Linked DNA regions of Homo sapiens. The protein of the gene in region 1 purifies or fractionates together with the protein of each later gene. This does not show direct contact. Each region holds a gene or a part of one and is shown in the gene's direction. Other genes may lie near its edges.

What was found. Proteins that work in one complex are often made in the same cells at the same time.
Region 2: the proteins of PLCZ1 (region 1) and SEMG1 purify together in Homo sapiens (affinity purification with mass spectrometry; 3 studies listed by BioGRID and IntAct, with this or other methods). This does not show direct contact.
Region 3: the proteins of PLCZ1 (region 1) and SERPINA12 purify together in Homo sapiens (affinity purification with mass spectrometry; 3 studies listed by BioGRID and IntAct, with this or other methods). This does not show direct contact.

Annotation. Positions count from the first base shown.
Region 1 is NC_000012.12:18,692,987-18,700,104, reverse strand, and holds part of PLCZ1 (1-phosphatidylinositol 4,5-bisphosphate phosphodiesterase zeta-1), read left to right. Parts: intron 1-154; coding exon 155-311; intron 312-3,838; coding exon 3,839-3,955; intron 3,956-5,025; coding exon 5,026-5,195; intron 5,196-7,118. UniProt on the Homo sapiens protein: The production of the second messenger molecules diacylglycerol (DAG) and inositol 1,4,5-trisphosphate (IP3) is mediated by activated phosphatidylinositol-specific phospholipase C enzymes. In vitro, hydrolyzes PtdIns(4,5)P2 in a Ca(2+)-dependent manner.
Region 2 is NC_000020.11:45,202,893-45,210,032, forward strand, and holds SEMG1 (semenogelin-1 preproprotein), read left to right. Parts: upstream 1-4,140; 5' UTR 4,141-4,161; coding exon 4,162-4,237; intron 4,238-4,481; coding exon 4,482-5,794; 3' UTR 5,795-5,838; intron 5,839-6,708; 3' UTR 6,709-6,876; downstream 6,877-7,140. UniProt on the Homo sapiens protein: Predominant protein in semen. It participates in the formation of a gel matrix entrapping the accessory gland secretions and ejaculated spermatozoa.
Region 3 is NC_000014.9:94,486,779-94,492,469, reverse strand, and holds the end of SERPINA12 (serpin A12 precursor), read left to right. Parts: intron 1-2,702; coding exon 2,703-2,850; intron 2,851-4,975; coding exon 4,976-5,167; 3' UTR 5,168-5,191; downstream 5,192-5,691. UniProt on the Homo sapiens protein: Adipokine that modulates insulin action by specifically inhibiting its target protease KLK7 in white adipose tissues.

The DNA of each region.
Region 1 (7,118 bases):
AATAATCATATTGAGTTAATCAAATGGTGTTTGAGGAGATAATCTTATGAAAAGATGAAAATCATTTGTTTGAAAGTGTATTTTCTTTACTAGAAAAAATTTTTTTTCCCAATGATTAGCATAAAAATGTAAAATTACTGCATTTTATTTTTAGACCAGGAAGCTAAAAATTGCTCTGGCCTTATCTGATCTTGTCATTTATACGAAAGCTGAGAAATTCAAAAGCTTTCAACATTCAAGATTATATCAGCAATTTAATGAAAATAATTCTATTGGGGAGACACAAGCCCGAAAACTTTCAAAATTGCGAGGTAAATTTTTGTGACTCAAATAGATGAAATGTTTAAATGAGTTAGATTCACTGCTAGGGTGTTAAGATTGCTCAATGATATTTATAAAATGTATATTCTCATAAAATTTCAACACATTTAACATAATTTAGAATGGGGTTACATACCTCAGGTCTCATTAAGTTTTATTTCATGGAACTTAGCCATTAATTAACTTTCCTAAGCCATGACATTTTGATTGAGAATGTCCGATGTGGCCACATTTGTTGAGGGCTGGGGGGCTGTGGTGAGCAGCTTGTATAGGAGAGCAGTGACAGGGCTGCAGAGGGAGGCAGAGCCGAATTAGAAGGCTTGAACTTTGTCCTGGAAGCGAAGGTGCGCAGGAGAAGATTGAACTCTCAGGAGTGGCATGATCCACTCTATTTCTAAACGATACCTCTGATAGCAGCCAAAGGGTGAGATTGCAGGCAGGAAGGCGGTAATAAAGATTTCTGGCAGTGAGAGTGGAGACAGGATGAACTTTGTGGATTTAATAGGCATTGAAGAGGGTAGGGTTAATCAGACTTGGAGGCTCTATGCCTATGGTGAAGGAAGGGGAAGAAATGGCGCCCAGGCTGGACTACCAGATGGCTGTGCAGAGTGTGCATGCCCCACTGCACACCTGTAGAGGTGCCATCTGTCTCTGCATCTTCCTTTCACTGCCTCTAATTCTAAAACTGAGGTGGTTATTCTGTTTGGCAGTGCCCAAGGTAAAACGGGGCCTGAGAAAGAGAATAGAAAGAAGACTCATTATGTGGGGAATGTCCCAAACTTAAAAGGGAATGAGCAACTAACTTAAGAGCCAGGTGACTCTGCTAATCCTCAAAAAATGGCAGTTTTTTTTAGTAGCAGGGGTATGGGGGAAGTAAGGACAATAATGGATACAAAACTATAGTTAGAATGAATAAGACATAGTATTTGATAGTGCAACAGGTGACTACAGTCAACAATAGTTTATTGTACATTTAAAAATAACTAAAAGAGTATAATTGGATTGTTTGTTACACAAAGGATAAATGCTTGGGGTGATGGATACACCACTTATCCTGATGTGTTACTAGACATTGTATATCTTTGTCAAAATATCTCGTGTACTCCATAAATATATTTATCTATGTACCCACAAAAATTAAAAGTTAAAAAAATGCAATCTACCATCTTGTGTAGAAATACCACAGAAGGAAAATCAGCACCTGCAATTGACTTGAGAAAAGCTGCTGGCTGTTTGGGAATGCGGATTCTGAAAGCTTTAATGATTAACCTTATTGGGCTGGTCATAGATACCCAAAGATTTTGAAGTATACTTTAGTTCATATTCTCTAACTATCTATTAGAGAGATCCTGGATTTTTTAAAGGCTCTTTTCCTTTTTTAACCTGTGTGTTGTAACCAAAAATCAATTCAGTAGGTCTGGACTACAGTTAAATAATAGAATAGAATAGAGTAGTATAGAGTAGAATGGAATGGGATGGAATGGAATGGAATGGAGTAGAATAGAATAGAATAGAATAGAATAGAATAGAATAGAATAGAAGAAAAGTGTATTGCAAGCAGTAATAATAAATATGGTTTTATGAAGCAATTGTGCATCGTGCATGTGAGTTGGATTGTAAAATGTATTTCTTGCTGTAAGGTGTGGTTAAGAGAGTTTGAATGACATGCTTTACTGGTCTCTGTTCCTTCATGTTGTTCATGAGGACAGGTCCTCATGTTGTTCATGAGGACAGGACCTGTAGGCACAGCATAAATTAATTATAATTGTATTACTCTCATCATATTAAATACTTGCAAAAATTTTGGAAAGGAATTAGATAGTTCTGAGTAGAGTCAAAGTATAACATTACCATTTCTTTGAAGGGGCATAGAGCATTTTTCTTGCACCAAAAGTTATAGTAAATAATCAATGATGTCTGCAAAGGTTTAACTTCAAGGATGCCAATTATTATTATAAACATAATGAAAATCATTAAAAAATAATGTTGTAGATGAATATTATTGAAATGAAATGATGTTCACATTATTATAGTAAATAAAGATAACGGTTTGTGAAAGGGAACAAACATTATCATTCAACTAAAAATTATACACATACAAAAGAATGGGAAGATATATGTGAAGGAGTTATCAGTGGTTATCAGTTGAATGATGACATATGGTTTGATTTGTTCTTTGATGTCCTCCTATTTTACAGTAAACATGAACTGTATTTGTAATAACAAACATGTTTATTTTCTAAAGGTTAATCTCAGAAATAACAAAATCATATTATGTTATGAGACCTTAGTCATCATTCACATTTATTACTTTGTAAATGAGAAACATTAAGACTCAGAAGAGTATGTGTTTTGCCTAAGGACAGACATCTGTTAGGACTAGATAAGGGAGCATGATACTTGGACACCTATGCTGTATTTATACACACATGGTTTCAAAATAAACTTTCTCTCAAGGAATGTGTAACTTTTGAAAATAAATATTGATAAAATTAACTGTAATTTTTAATTTGACAATGCTTCCTAAATAATAGTATTTAGGATGAAGGGAGAGGTGATTCTATTCTAGTTGGTTTAGCAAATGAAGTGAGCCATAAGCAGTAACCATTCTCCCATGATGAGTCACTATATCAGCAGGAATGGTTGCAGAAACAGGATCTGTTTAATGAAAAAAGAAAATCCTTGGAGAAGCATGAAATTTGTGTTCAAAAATTTGAAGAAGGTGCCAAATGGTAAAGGGTTTAAGTTAGTTTGAATCTCAAGTGACTTAAATATTATATAGACAAGAAGAAACACAAAGAATATGTACAGAAACTAAAATAGACTGTGTGTGTATGTTTGTTCCTGTTTGTGTGTATACTACAAATACGTAGAGATTATCCCAGTAAGAACGACATTTGAAATAATTAAAAGCATTGAAAGTTTTTCAATGGAGACATGTAAACACAGATTGAATAAACTTTGGGGGAAGATGCTGGAGTGAAGGGATTGGAAGTCGAACTGGACAACTTTGGGGTGCCTTTCAACCCTGAGAACCTGTGAAATGTTCAGTAGGATTAATTTAGCTGGAATCGTATAGCTTTGTGTGACTTCCATATGATTCTGCCCTACTGTGAAAATCAAAGTGGAAAAATAATAAGGGAAAATGCTGCTTTTGTTTTGAAAAATGAATGGATTATATTTTGGAGTTTTATGTATTCTTACAACAAAGTGAAATAATTTGGGTGTAAAAAATATATAAATTATCTAATCAATTTTTTCCTTGAATGATCAGTGTACATACATTTTATGATAAAATTGTCACTAACATCTAAATAATAGTGAATTATACTATAAACATAAAGGCATGGATTTATTTTGATATTCATGAATTGCAAATTTTTGCCAAGACAATACATATCAAAATTGTTGAAACTATTATAGAATTATATGATATATATATATATATATATATATATATAGTGGCTTTTTAAATTTATTTGAATTCTTTCACAATGTTTTAATTATTCTTTTTCAGTCCATGAGTTTATTTTTCACACCAGGAAGTTCATTACCAGAATATATCCCAAAGCAACAAGAGCAGACTCTTCTAATTTTAATCCCCAAGAATTTTGGAATATAGGTTGTCAAATGGGTATGTTATATACGATATTGAGTTGTTTGCAGAAGTAACATAAAATGAATTCATTTTATGAATGTATGAAAAACTCGTGAAAAGGGCTTTCTGTAAAAGATTTTTTAGCCCGGGGGCTTTGGGGTCAGGCACTAATGGTGGGTCATGTGTTGTAAGAGTTGAAGTCATTCCTATCTGGGTTGAAGCGGGGTAAATCTCAGTGATGGTTTGGGGAATGGTGGTTAAATTCACGAGGAGTTAATATGAGACATGTGTAGTGGAGGAAGGGAACAAGGAAACCCAAATGGACATTGAAGATCAAATTCCTTTGCTTGAGGTATGCTCAAGGCCTCTTCAAATCAAGTGACCTCTATCATTTATACTTTACATGAGCTTCTACATTCATAGTTTTGAAAAGTGAATAAGATTGCCTAACTTGGTTATTTGCCCTCACCAGACTCTTATTCCAAATTGAACAGCTAGTACAGCACTGCACTAACCCATCAGAAAGTACCAGGTGTTACCCTTCTACTGGATTGTGGCAAGGCCTGTAGGTGTGAGGAGGGGGGATATTGGGGCTGGGTGGAGGGTGGAGTGTGGTACTCTCTACAGTGGCTATTTACCAGGCTATACTGAGGTACTTCCATATTGTAACGACAATTATTGCTTTGCCTGTTTCTCACTTTCTCCTCAAGTGACAACAGCATCTCATGGACTTGAAAATTTATGACATAGTTGATGTCTTTACCTCTTGCATTCAATGCACTGATACTCTTTATTCTGACATTTCTTAAGTGTTACCTGACATGAACATTGTTATTCTGTAATCTGTACTGGATACCATTTTGATTTCTTTACTCAAAGCTGTGTAGTAATTTACTTACAGATTAAACTTTGCAACTCATCAATATACATTAATATAGACATGGCAGGAGAAAGAGTTTTAAAAATCATGAATTATTAGGCTAATGATACTTGCTCATAGAACATTTGGGGACATAGAATCCATTATTAGATTTCAGTAAGTGGTTTGTGTTCCTTTATTTGTATTCTCTATTACCTGACAATGTCAAAATACTTCTTTCTTACAGTGGCTTTAAATTTCCAGACCCCTGGTCTGCCCATGGATCTGCAAAATGGGAAATTTTTGGATAATGGTGGTTCTGGATATATTTTGAAACCACATTTCTTAAGAGAGAGTAAATCATACTTTAACCCAAGTAACATAAAAGAGGGTATGCCAATTACACTTACAATAAGGGTAAGATTAATAAATTTTCTTTTACATTTTTTGGTTATTATATAAACTAGATAGTGTACATTAGTATTTTGAATTCCACTGATTTGCTTCAATTTCTTTTAAATTTCTGTTAATCTTTTCAGGTACTATATGTGGGTAGTATTCCAGCATCCTTCTATATCTGAAAAATGTCTTCCTGTTGTAATTTTACATGAATGATTATCTGCCTGTGAATTGACATATTGAGGCTAAAACCTTCTCCTCTCAAAGTTCTACTATATGATTTCATTGTATTTAGGCATTTAATATTGTGAGATACAGGTCTCAGTTCAGCCCACTAATTACTTTGTGGGCATGTTACTTTTTCTCGCCTTTGATGAATTTTACCTGGAAATTTTAGGAGCCCTTTTCTTTTCCTCAGTCTCCACAATTAGGCTTTTGTAGGTCAGGATTCTTCCCCCCATATGTCTGTGAATATCATTTGATTACTTAAAAAGAAAAATTATCCATATGTCTTTCTCCAGTATCTGTCTTCAGTGTCTGTTAATTTGTGTCAACTTTAACATATTCCCTTTTCCTCTGCATGTTGGGAGAGCTTTTTTGTTTGTTTGTTTGTGAAAGAGCGCGCTTTATTGGGAAGCAGACTGCTGCACAGTGACCAACAGACAGGCCACCCAGTGGGCACTTACACATCGTACTCCAAAAGACACAGGATGTTTTGCTAATAAAAATCAATGGGAACAGAGATTCCTCTGGGCAACTCCCCCAGCCTCATCCCTTTCAGGGACTGAGAAATCACCCAACCATTTTCCTGATGGCAGCCGTAGTTCACTAGAGATACAGCCCCTCAGGGGTGTCTTCCTGTTTCTTATAAAGAACATTTTCTTTAGATTTTTTGAAGTCTTCATTTGTTACTTTCATTCTACGTTCTCTTAAGGCCATCAGACCAGCTTCTGTACAGACTGCCTTGATGTCAGCACCAGAGAGGTCATCTTTAGCCATGATCAAGTCGTGCAGGGTTACATCATCAGCCAGCGTCATCCTGCTTGTGTGAATCTGAAAGATGGGCTTCTTCGTCTTTTCATCAGGCAGGGGGAACTCAATCTTCCTGCCAATGCGGCCTGGTCTGATAAGCGCTGGATCCAAAGTTTCTATTTGGTTTGTGGCCATGATAGCTTTCACATCTACCCTAGAATCAAATCCATCCAACTGGTTCAGCAGTTCCAACGTTGTTCGCTGAATTTCTCTCTCACCACCAGAATTGGAGTCATATCTTTTTGTCCCAATGGCGTCAATTTCATCAATAAACACAATGGACGGTGCACGTTCTTCAGCAACTCGAAACAATTCCCGTCCGAGTTTGGGCCCATCACCTAGGTACTTCTGAATAAGTTCAGAGCCAACCACTCTCAAGAAAGTGGCTGAGGTTTGGTTTGCTACTGCTTTGGCTAACAAGGTTTTACCTGTGCCAGGTGGACCACAGAGAATGACCCCCTTGGAGGCTTTATACCCATCTCTTCATAATATTCAGGATGGGTGAGAGGAAGCTCCACAGATTCCTTAATTTCCCGAATTTGGTTGTCCAACCCCCCAGTATCTGCATAGGTCTCTTGGGGGGCCTTTTCCACCTTCATCACTGTGACCAGGGGATCCATGTCATCCATCAGCACCCCTATCATGGTATGCACCTTGTGGTTGAGCCTGACCGAGCAGCCAGGTTCCAGAAGATCCTTGTCTGCAAATGAAAGAATGCTGATGTAGTGTTCTGAGCCCACAGATGTAGACACGATGGCATGATTGTCATCAATGATCTCTTCCAAGATTCCTACTGACATTGGGGTCCCCCTCAGATCATCCACTTTTGATCTTTTCCCTTCTTGCTTTTCTTCTAATGGTTTCATTTGTTCCTGATTTCTAATGAATTCTTCCTCCATGAGAAGATAG
Region 2 (7,140 bases), on another chromosome or scaffold:
AATACTACACAGTCATAAAAAATAAATAAAATCATGCATTTGCAGCAACATGGATGCAGTGGGAGGCCATTATCCTAAGTAGATTAATGCAGGAAGAGAAAACTATATACCACATGTTCTCAGTTATAGAGGGGAGCTAAATGTCAGATACTCATGAACATAAAGATGGAAATAATACACACTGAAGACTACTAGAGGAGAGAAGGAGGGAGGGAAGGGGACAAGGGTTGAAAAACTAAATGTTGGGTATTATAGTCAGTATCAGAATGACAGGAAAATTCATACCCCGAGCTTCAGCATCATGCAATATACCCAGGTAACAAATTTGCACACTTGGCCCCTGAATGTAAAATAACAGTTGAAAAAGAAAAAAAAGGTCTGATGTGAAGTGTATTGGAACTGTTTTGCATTTTATTTGCTTCTTTTCTTTTGCTGCTTCAGTATCATTTATTTGTCTTTGATCTTTCACAGTTTAATTATTATATGTCTAGTCTTTTTTGAATTGAATGTGATTGGTGACTGTTGACCATCCTGCACTTTGACTACATATATATATATATAATAGACACATACATATATATATAATATATATGTATATATGTATATGTATATATATGGGTGTATATATGTGTGTGTGTGTGTGTGTGTATATATATATATATATATATATATATATATATATATATGAACTCCTCAGATTTGGAAAGTTTTCTGTTATTACTTATTTAATAAGCTTTCTTTACTTTTCCATTTATCTTTCTCTAACTTCTCTTGAATGCCAGTAAATTGTCCCTTTGCTCACTTAATGCTATTCCATACATCTCATAAGTTTCCTTCATTCTATTCTTTTTTCTTTTTTCCTTTTCTGAGTATATATTGTCAAATAACCTGTATTCAAGCTCACAGATTATTCCTTCTGCTTGATCATTTCTGGTGTTAATGCACTCTATTGCACTTTTCACACTTTTCATTTTATTCATTGCATTCTTCAGCTCCTATATTAACATTAGATATTAAATGTTATCATTTTTACCCTTTGTTACATCTCTCTTTCTGGTCACTTATTGTTTTCATCATTTCATTTAATTATTTATCTGTATTTTATTAAAGTTCTTTGAGCTTCCTTAGAACAGCCATTTTAAATTCTCTTTCAGGCAGGTCATACATCTCCATGTCTTTGGGGCCAATCAATGGTATCTTATTTTGTTCATTTGGTACCTTATTTTGTTAATTTGGTGTCATCAGTTTTCCCCGATTGTTCTTGATCCTTGTGATTGTGCATTGATGTCTGCACATTGAAGAAGTAGGTACTTATTGAATTGCAGGTAGGTACTTGAATGCAGATATTGAATTTAAGGTAGGTACTTACTCCAGTTTGGCTTTGTCTGAGAATGTCCCTCAACTCTGTCCGGAAATTCTAGGCAGATCATCTGTTCTAGGTTTGTAAGCCTGTGACTGTTTCAGTCATTGCAGCACAAGGAGATGTCATAAACCCAGGACCACCATGGCCAGTTCTGCACCAGGCTGTAACCCATGGCTGCAGAGGCTGGCACAATGATGGAATGCATTCCCAACTCCTCCTCACTGATACCTGCCTACGTATGTTGGTTATTCATAATCCAAGGCTGCTGTAGTTGGCTGCCAGTGGTACAGGTAAGAACGCAAGTCTATCTCACAGGAACTATGTGTTCCTCTCTGCTGCTGGGGCAGGTCTTGCTGCTTAGGCCACAGGTATTCAAGCAGGGTCACTATGGGTGTCCTCCCAGTGCTGAATTTTACTATTATAGACTAGTATTTTGTTCCGTGAAAAAGTCCAAGCCTTACTTCATTCCCTTCCCCCCAAAAGAAAGTAGCTCTCTCTGCACTGTGCTGCCTGTGATTGGGTTAGGGGTGATACAGGAAACAAAATTGTCTTTCGTGCCCTCTTCAATGTGTATTTTTAATTATTATACTATAATCAGGTTCTGTAATATCTCATCTGGCCTGTTTAGCTTTTGAGAAACTATTATCATATGTGGATAATTATTAAATTCGACGTTTTGGAGGGTATAATCTCTGGGGAGTCCTACTCTACCAGGTTTTTCTGCCCATTCCCCAAAAATAACTATATTTGAATCTTTTCTAAGTTGTAAAGTGATTTCCCATAGAATTGAGCAAAATACATTTAAGTCCTCCTGTTTTCTTCTTTTCCTATGAGTATAAAACTTTCAGATTTTTGTGCCAATTTAGTGCACTTTAATATTTTTGCATTTTTTATTTGTCCAACAGGACAAATCATTTGATCACTTAATCTTTTCCCCCATCATAATTCCATATCTAAGATGTATGCATCACCATACCATTTTTATGCTTTCCAAATCACTGATTTCTGATTTCAACTTTATCAATACATTCCTTTATCATTTGGAAATGTTTTTTTCCACATTTCATTGAATTCAATTCTAATATGAATATAGTAATCACATGTTTTGCTTGGATTGCATTTTCCTGGTTTGTTTTTGCAAATATTGTGCCCTTTTGTTTTATCTGCATCTTTTGGACACTAGATGAGATGAAAGTTTTGTTCTTGATCCATAAGTAAGATTAATATTTCAGACTCTATTTTGTATCAGTAAGTTTGGAACAGAACAGTTTCTGGTATTTTCTTAAGGGAAGTGTGAGGAAGATTACAGTGGTTAGCAGACACAGTAATCAATTTTAGTTCAGAACAATATCACCTTACTCTGTTGGGGTTTCTGCAATAAGGAACTACTTACTGCCTTTGAGGCAAACAGATAAATTTGGTAAGATCTCAGAGTGGCTCATAGAGAAACCATGCAGCTCACATGATTTATGTTTGATAGCATAGCACTTTTTTTCTGTGGTTGGCCTTTCTCTTTTCCCCTTCCATAGAGCATTGCCTACAGGAAGGTTAAGATTCTAAGACAGAATAATTGAAAATAAGTTTTCAAGCTATCCTTTCCCCAGCACTACCCTCCAAGGTGTTCTGAATGTACACAGGGACACTGTTGGGATGCTTTCTTCTTCTCCTGTGGTCTGCTCATAACGAAGTCTTTATGACTCAAAGTAAAGAAAGTTTCTTCAGACTTTTCAGGATGTCATCACAATTGGAAAAATCTATGCTTCTACCAAAGGTGGGAATTTTAGCTTCATGTCCACTCACAATACATTATTCAATTCATTGATGGTGGCAAATATTTCTCACAGCCTGTTTGGGGATTCAGCTGTTTACTACTGAAGTAGAAACTTCTCTTAATTAAAAAGAAAATTCTGCTGTTTAGGTAGATTTCATGAAAAGAACCCAATCTAGAAACCAGCATTTTTACTTTTTTTCCAACAGTTGTTCCTATCACCATGAAAGCATATTAAAATTCTTTCATCCTTTGAAAACACATCTGGAACTTACCTCACCCTCCAGATACAGCCTCAGCTCTCACTCCACCATGAATTCAGACTTCCTGAGAAGGTTGCAGCTGGTCTCCATCCTTCAACTGACAACCCAATGCAATTGTATTCATCTCTCATTAAAGTTACTAGCAACAACTAAGAAAAACTTTGGATACATGTCAGTCTTTATTGTGTTGAACTTGACAGACATATTTGACATTGGAGTGCCCCATTTACTTGTTTAAAATTTCTTTCTTTGGATTCCATAACGTTTCATTATCTTCTATATCATTGGACTTCTATGATTGCTCATTCTTAGGTAAAATAGAACGTGTCTCAAGATCATTTTTAAAACAAAAGGAAGTATGGAGTTCTATCTAAAATAGAGTATTTAAATTATTGCATCATGAAGGGAAACTCACATTTAGAATATAAAGGCATTCTCAGAAACCAATTGCTTTTGTAGCCTGAAGCCAGTCTCTTTCCTACTTTTGTCTATAATTCTGTAAAATTAAAGTGATCTGGCATGATGATCTAAAAGGACTGATAAAAATTTGCTGGGGCTGCCAGAAGAAAGAAAATGCCTTTGACATTATGTTGCTGGGGACATTGACTTTGTCCCACACTCAGCAGGGGTGAGGAAGTTGGCATTTACTGATAAGCTAAGAAAAGTCAGTGCCTTTTGTAATTTAAGCTCCACCCATGGCACACTCACTCAAGGAAGATATAAATGACAAGGTCGGCTCAGCTCTCAGACAAGGTTTTCCAAGCAAGATGAAGCCCAACATCATCTTTGTACTTTCCCTGCTCCTCATCTTGGAGAAGCAAGCAGCTGTGATGGGACAAAAAGGTGAGTGGAGAGGGTAAGCCTTGGGGAAAGCTGCTCAGACAGCTAATAATCTAAGATTATTTGGGGTGCAAACAGTAACCTGTTTAGGCACAGATTCTTCTCTTTGAAGAGAATTGATTTTCTCCACCCAAAGCTTCAGCTTTTCTAGAAATATCAATAATTTGTTGGGGGAAAAGTGGGGGGTAAGAGTTGTAAGGGAGCTTTGGAGATAATGAATGCATACCTTCTTATTATCAATTACCAGGTGGATCAAAAGGCCGATTACCAAGTGAATTTTCCCAATTTCCACACGGACAAAAGGGCCAGCACTATTCTGGACAAAAAGGCAAGCAACAAACTGAATCCAAAGGCAGTTTTTCTATTCAATACACATATCATGTAGATGCCAATGATCATGACCAGTCCCGAAAAAGTCAGCAATATGATTTGAATGCCCTACATAAGACGACAAAATCACAACGACATCTAGGTGGAAGTCAACAACTGCTCCATAATAAACAAGAAGGCAGAGACCATGATAAATCAAAAGGTCATTTTCACAGGGTAGTTATACACCATAAAGGAGGCAAAGCTCATCGTGGGACACAAAATCCTTCTCAAGATCAGGGGAATAGCCCATCTGGAAAGGGAATATCCAGTCAATATTCAAACACAGAAGAAAGGCTGTGGGTTCATGGACTAAGTAAAGAACAAACTTCCGTCTCTGGTGCACAAAAAGGTAGAAAACAAGGCGGATCCCAAAGCAGTTATGTTCTCCAAACTGAAGAGCTAGTAGCTAACAAACAACAACGTGAGACTAAAAATTCTCATCAAAATAAAGGGCATTACCAAAATGTGGTTGAAGTGAGAGAGGAACATTCAAGTAAAGTACAAACCTCACTCTGTCCTGCGCACCAAGACAAACTCCAACATGGATCCAAAGACATTTTTTCTACCCAAGATGAGCTCCTAGTATATAACAAGAATCAACACCAGACAAAAAATCTCAATCAAGATCAACAGCATGGCCGAAAGGCAAATAAAATATCATACCAATCTTCAAGTACAGAAGAAAGACGACTCCACTATGGAGAAAATGGTGTGCAGAAAGATGTATCCCAAAGCAGTATTTATAGCCAAACTGAAGAGAAAGCACAGGGCAAGTCTCAAAAACAGATAACAATTCCCAGTCAAGAGCAAGAGCATAGCCAAAAGGCAAATAAAATATCATACCAATCTTCAAGTACGGAAGAAAGACGACTCCACTATGGAGAAAATGGTGTGCAGAAAGATGTATCCCAACGCAGTATTTATAGCCAAACTGAAAAGCTAGTAGCAGGCAAGTCTCAAATCCAGGCACCAAATCCTAAGCAAGAGCCATGGCATGGTGAAAATGCAAAAGGAGAGTCTGGCCAATCTACAAATAGAGAACAAGACCTACTCAGTCATGAACAAAAAGGCAGACACCAACATGGATCTCATGGGGGATTGGATATTGTAATTATAGAGCAGGAAGATGACAGTGATCGTCATTTGGCACAACATCTTAACAACGACCGAAACCCATTATTTACATAAACCTACCATTCGGTAACCATGTGAAAGGATGGACCAATATCAAGGTAATTTTTTTTTAGCAAATAGGGGAGATATCTCTCTCATTGTTTAGAATTGTTGGGGACTCTCCAGGACTTTTGTGGGATTGATAACCATTGTTCGCACCAATAGAAGTGCTGTATAACAAGTGGTAGGAAGATGAGCCTCCCCATTCCCTGGTGAGGAGAGGGTCTGGTAGTGGCACAGAAGGATGTTTGGCCTATCATGAGGTCCTAGAATTCCTATCCTTAATTGAATATTCTTCAATAATATTTTTTTGTATATGCCTACCTGCTAAAGGTTTTTTTGAACAGGTACTGACTACATATGCATATTTATAAGTTTATGGTATACTCTTGTCAGTTCTTATACTTTAGATTAGTAAACCTCAGTTTCTTTCCTATATAGTATAAAGGATTACAGCCATTAATGTTTTCTTTCTGCACACCAGTGAATGTTCTTGCATCCCTGTTAGGGTTCATCTATGCTCCTTCAGAGACCACAAGCCCAAAGACTATCAGTCCTCCCTCTCAGAATACAGGAAAGAGATATGTAGAAAGATCCTTGTTCATGTTGTGAAAGAGAAGATGGAAAGGGAGACACAAGAGATGGTGAGGGATCTCATGGGCCAATTGGGTGTTTACAACATCAGGAGAAGAAAACTGAAGCCCTGAGAGGGGTAATGGTGCTTCCCTGCCTCTTTGCAGTAAGTAACACTGCACTTGAAGAGAGGGCAAGCAGTAGAAACAGTGGCCCCAGCTGGCAACTAGTGGCCTGGTATCCTAGTAGTAGAGGGCTGGTACAGTTGGAGCTGAAGGGGACAGGGGGCCCAGCTACCATCCCCACCCTTCACTTTTTACTATACTCACATCACTGATTCTCTTCTTTCTCTCTAGGTGTCAGTTGACCTCAGTGAATTCTGTGATGTTTCTGAGATGCAGACTCCCGTGTAGTTTCAGATTCTTGGTCCATGGATGACACCACCTGCCCATGCTTCCTTGAATTAGGCTTTCCTAACCTGAAGCGCCTTCAAACTTCCAATAAAGAGATCATTTTCTGCTTCATCTGCTTTTGACTCCTGTTTTCTCTGGATTCCTAGTGGCTCAAGGGGTTGAGGGCATTTCTAATGTAAGTGGTTTTGAAAGAAAATAAAGGGATATTTTTGAAGCACTAGGGAGAATAGTAATCAAAGCCACATTTCAAGATATATTGATAGAAACCAACACTAAAAATAGGGTGCTGTTAGTCTACCAGTCACATGTCTACCACCTGAGGCCAACACTAAAGGCTTTCATGACCCTGGTACTAATAAGACCCCAGGAACTAAA
Region 3 (5,691 bases), on another chromosome or scaffold:
ATGCAAGAAGACAAAGCAGGTGTCTGCCTTCTGTGCAGGCAGGCCTGTATGGCTTGTGCTGGCCTGCAGGAAATCTCAATGCTATTATTTTTCCCAACATAAAAGCTTCTCTTGACCTCTGCTTTCCCCCAGTTATTCCTCCATTTCGTCACTCCCCCTTTGCAGGTGAATACCATGAAGCAGTTGCCTCTGTTCACAGCCCCTAGTTCCTCTCATCCTCTCCTAAATCCACTCCAGTCCAGCTTCTGCACCCACTTCTCACAGAAAGCTCCCTTCCCAGGGTCCCAAGGGTGTCTGTGTTGCAGAGTGCAGTCAGTCTCAGGCCTCGCTCTTCGGCTGGTTTCTGTCCCCACCTCCTTAAGGCACTCTTCATTTGGCTTCCAGCTCTCCACTCTCACATCACCTCCCACCTCTCCCCTCCTCAATCTCCTTTGCTGGAGACCCCTCTCCTCCTCCAGGTCTCAGAGGTGAGTGTCTCAGGGCTCAGTTCCCAGCCTTCTTTTCTGTCTATACTTACCCCTGAGTGAGCTCACAGGCTAAGAGCTTTAAACACCATCTCTATTACCACGACTGCCATGCTTCCATCCCCAGCCCCTGTTCTCCCCCAAATTCCAGAGTCGTGGATCTTTCTGTTTACCCAGAATGTCCCCAGGATGTGTAATTGGAGCTTAGTGTCAACACATCCAGAATGACTTCCTGATCTGTCCCCAGAGAACCTCCCCAAGCCTGCCCATCTCAATCAGTGGTGACTCCATCTTTTTAGTTGCTCAAGCCAAAAACCTTGGAGTCACCCTGACCACCCTCAAATGCCTCATTCAGTCTGTCAGGAAACTCCTTTAGCCTACAGCAAACCACATCTGGAATTTGGTATCTTTCCGCCGTCTCTGTGGCTCCCAACATGTGACTACCACACTAGCTTCCAAATGGTCTCCCAGCATCAATTTTTGCCCATCCCCACTACACACACCACCACCACCAAGAGTATATTCTTAACAGAGGCAACAGAATGATCCTTTTAAATCCTAAGCAAGACTATGTCACTCCTCTGTTCAAAACCCGACAGTGACTCCCCATTTTATTCAGGAAAAAAAACCCCAATTTGTCTAACTCTCTTGCCTGCCTCAAGGTTTGCTCAAACTTTGGACCAATCCTCGATTCCTGCAAGTCAATCTATTTATTTTTTTCCATAGCACTTACTGCCTTCTGCATACCGCTAGTACATGTATGTAGGCTTAAGTGGTACTTTTTGTTGTGTTGATTCTATCACCTGTCTTCCCTGCTAGAACACACAGTCAGGGGCAGGGATCTTTGCCTGCTCTGTTCATAGATGCATCTCCAGCACCTAGAACAGCACCTGGTATACAGTAGAGATTTAATAAATGTTTGTTGAGTGAATGAATGAGTGGAAAGGTAAATTTGGGAGTCGTTGGGCCTGTTGATGATATTCAAAGCTGTGAGACTGAATGACATGTATGGGGATGGAGTGAAGGTGGAAAAGAGAAGGGGACCAAGGTCTGAGCCTGGAAGCAGCAGTGTCACCGGTAGAGATGGGAGGGGTGGAGCCCGACAGGGGCAGGAGTGGTGGGGAAGGAGGAGAAGCCTCAAGGGGTGGACCTGGAATGCTTCACCTTGGAGAAAGGGATTACCATCACGTGCGGCTCACTGAGAGCTGGCTCTGGGACGTGGGGCTGGTTGTCAACGGTGACTCTGGAAAGAGTTGCTTCCATAAAAAGTTGAGGTCAAAGAGCCGACTGGAGTGGACTGAGGCAATTGTGGGAGGGAGTGGAGATAGCTGCTATAAAAGGAAGAAAAGAAATGAGCTGGAAGCTGGAGAGGCTATTCAGGGCCAAGAGAGATCTCTTGGTGTTAGTTTTTGAGGATAGGGTCACTCTAGCATGAGGCCTCCTCCAGAGGAGGATCAAAGGGGCACTGTTTAAGGATGATGCAGGAGAGAGAGGACACATAGGCAGGAATGAGATCCTTGGGTAGGTGGGAAAATAGGGTGCAAGGCCAGGTGAACGGGAATCCAGGGTCTGCAGGTACCTCAGGAGAGCCTGGGCCCCAGGCTCCGGGCAGGAGGCTGATCGCGGTTCAGCCACAGAGGATGTGAAGCTGCTAGTTGGAGGGCAGGAGGATGGGCACCTGCTACGCACCAACTGTCTGCTGAGTGCCTTGTCTGCATTTGCCTTAGCACCCCTAGTGTCCCGCAGGAGCGACGGTGATCATTTTCCTTCTCACACAAGTGACTTAGAGAGGGAAGGTCACAGAGCTCATGAGAGGCAGAGTGGATTTGAACTCAGTTCTGTCTACCTCCAGATTCTGGGTGCCTTGTTCCCTCCAGTGTCAGGTCTTCTGGGGTCAGGATGGGCTCAGGGCTCAGGCATGGCAGCGACTACAGTGTGGACATCATCAGTGACTGTGGCTGAAGGGGCTCTGAGACGGGGGAACTTGAGACTTGAGAACACTCCCTGTAGAGGGCTCTGGGGCAGGTGTGCTGGGAGGCAGGGACACGGTTCAGAGAGCTTATGGTGTTTTGAAACCAGGGTCCCAGGGTTAAGGAGCCCCTCCTCATTCTGTGGATGGAGAGAGATTGGAGACCTTTGGGGCTGGGAGGACACATGTTTCATTGGTCATGTATCCTGAGGCTTGCCCTGCAACACAACAGGACTTGACCACTCACCCTTGTCGTGTCAATTCCCCAGGGTCGTAGACGTGTCTGTACCCAGACTCCACATGACGGGCACCTTCGACCTGAAGAAGACTCTCTCCTACATAGGTGTCTCCAAAATCTTTGAGGAACATGGTGATCTCACCAAGATCGCCCCTCATCGCAGCCTGAAAGTGGGCGAGGTAAGCCTGCCTAGCCTGGACTCCACTCCCTGCAGCACAGGGGCCTTCCCCCAGCCGGGGCCAGAGCCAGGGTCACAGTGGCTGTCAGAGCCGAGACTCCACCCACCAGTCGGGGCGGGCATGAATGCAGCTGTGCCCCTTACCAACCCCGTGATCCTGGGCAAACCACATAACCTCCCCCAGCCTCATGCTTCCAGTCTTTAAAACTGCTGCTATTTTGGAAATCAATTCAATGTAGCAAACGTTGATCAAGGCCTGGAACAGTTATCAGGCCTAGAACTGGTCTAGGTCTAACCCAGACCCTCTCTCAAAGGCCACATCCGTCTTTCTTTCTTTCTTTTCTTTCTTTCTTTCTCTTTCTTTCTCTCTTTCTCTCTCTCTTTCTTTCCTCTTTCTCTCTCTCTTTCTCTCTTTCTTTCTTTTTCTTTCTCTGTCTCTCTCTCTCTTTTTTTCTTTCTTTCTTTCTTTCTCTCTCTCTCTCTCTCTTCCTTCCTTCCTTCCTTTCTTTCTTTTATTTTGTTTTTTGAAGGAGTCTTGCACTGTCACCCAGGCTGGAGTACAGTGGTGCGATCTCAGCTCACTGCAACCTCCACCTCCCAGGTTCAAGCAATTCTCCTGCCTCAGCCTCCCGAGTAGCTGGGATTACAGGCGCCCGCCACCATGCCCGGCTAATTTTTTTGTATTTTTAGTAGAGACAGGGTTTCACCATGTTGGCCAGGCTGGTCTCAAACTCCTGACCTCAGGTCATCCACCCACCTTGGCCTCCCAAAGTGCTGGGATTACAGGCGTGAGCCACCGCGCCCAAGGCCACATGTTTCATATGAGTTGGCATAAGCATATGCTGCATAGGAAGAGATGACCAAGCAAAGGGGCCTGTGGCCCCTGGCAAAGGTGAGCACCTGACTGTCTGGGGCAAGAAGAGAGCACCATATAGGTAGAGTCACCGGATTTAGCAGATTTCATACAGGATACCCAATTAAATTTGAATTTTAGATAAATGATGAATAATATTTTTAGTGCCAGTATGTTCAGAATATTTCACGGGACACACTTACACTAAAACATATTCATTGTTTATCTTGAATTCAAATTTCAGTGGATGTCCTGTATTTCACCTGGCAACCCTACTTTGGGGTTAAAAAGGCATTGAAGGAGGGGAAAGATTTCAACAAGCAGAGATGGGTGCGGGGATGGGTGCAGCAGTGTGGCCAAGGCTGGGGGTTTTTGGATATCATGGAGTAGTGGGTGGTGGGGATTGGGTGCTTAGTGGAGATAAAGTGGGAGGTTCAAGCCAGTCTGGGAAGGATCCAGCTTGCCAAGCTGAGCCCGCTGCTCTGAATCAGATGGCACAGATTCCACTGTATTTTTCACGTTGACATAAGAAACATAGTTACTAGAATTTTCTCACTTTTGAGCTTTCCTGCCACAGACTTCCCACAAACATTTAACACCAGCTCTGAAGGTCTTGTTGAGTTTAATGGCTCATTTCTTTCTGTAGTTACGTTTGCTGATAGCTGTGATTGTAACACAGGATACTGTCCTGTTTTCTGCAAGTAAAATTGTGAGAATTTTGTAGGCTAGCAAGAAATGTGCCAGGATTTCACACATGCCCGTTAGTTTCCCAGTACTGATCACCTGTTTACAGACGTTGATGCCTTTGGAGTGGATTTGGGATGCAAGTCATCTCAAAGAGCTAATCCAGAATCCTTCTCCCTCTTAACCATCCACCAGGTGGATGAAAGGAGGTGCTGGAGGCTTCAGGGTGGGGGTACCACCACCTCACTTTCACCCAGCTACAGCCCAGTAGACCTTTCTGCCACGGCTATGGTTGATGCTTCCCTGTAACCCATGAGAAAGAGAAGCAAACCCCACTCCATCTCTCCCCCCACCGACTCCCGTAACTGATGCTCCCCCTGCACCATCTTTTCCTTCACACGGCATCTGCTTGTCGAATATTCTCCAGCATTAATGGCGAAAGAGCCAGGAACCCTGGAGTAAACCAAGTTACTGCTGTGCTGGATGGCTTGGGCCAAGTGGTCTTCCTCTCTGATCCTCTCTGGGCCTCCGGCCCACTGTGGTCGCCAAGGAGCTTGGCAGACCTTGACTTTGCCCTTGGCTTCCGTAGGCTGTGCACAAGGCTGAGCTGAAGATGGATGAGAGGGGTACGGAAGGGGCCGCTGGCACCGGAGCACAGACTCTGCCCATGGAGACACCACTCGTCGTCAAGATAGACAAACCCTATCTGCTGCTGATTTACAGCGAGAAAATACCTTCCGTGCTCTTCCTGGGAAAGATTGTTAACCCTATTGGAAAATAAAGGAGAATTCCTGCTTGCCACAGACCCCGAACATGGCTTGGGGTTGAACATGTTCCATCTTCCTGAGATGGAAGTCACAGGCACATTTCAGTTTAGTCTCTCCCTGTCACCACCTCCCTAGACAGCCCGAATGAGCAAAACTGCAAGTTCTAGAAGTCCTGTGCCCCATTTCCTCCCTGCCCATTCAAATGCTGGGATGCAATGCCCCACCCCCGCCCACTTGGTGGCATTCTCCTCTCCCCTCCAGCGGGCAGAGGGACTCTGTGATTTAGTAAACAAATGTTTCTCCCCCACAGCCCTGCCCCAGGTTGACTGGCTGTTGGTGGATAATTTGGGGAAGGTATGGGCCACAGCAAGTACCTGGGGTCTCGAGTGAGAGACTGGGGTTCAAATCCTGGAATGAGGTATCTTTGGGAAAGCCACAAACCCTCTCTGAGTCTGTCTTCTTATTTCTGAAGTGAAGGTCCCGCCCCTCCCTTTGGGGCTCCAAGGAAGCTAGTTCAGTGCTTTAACAAAGTCGGTCC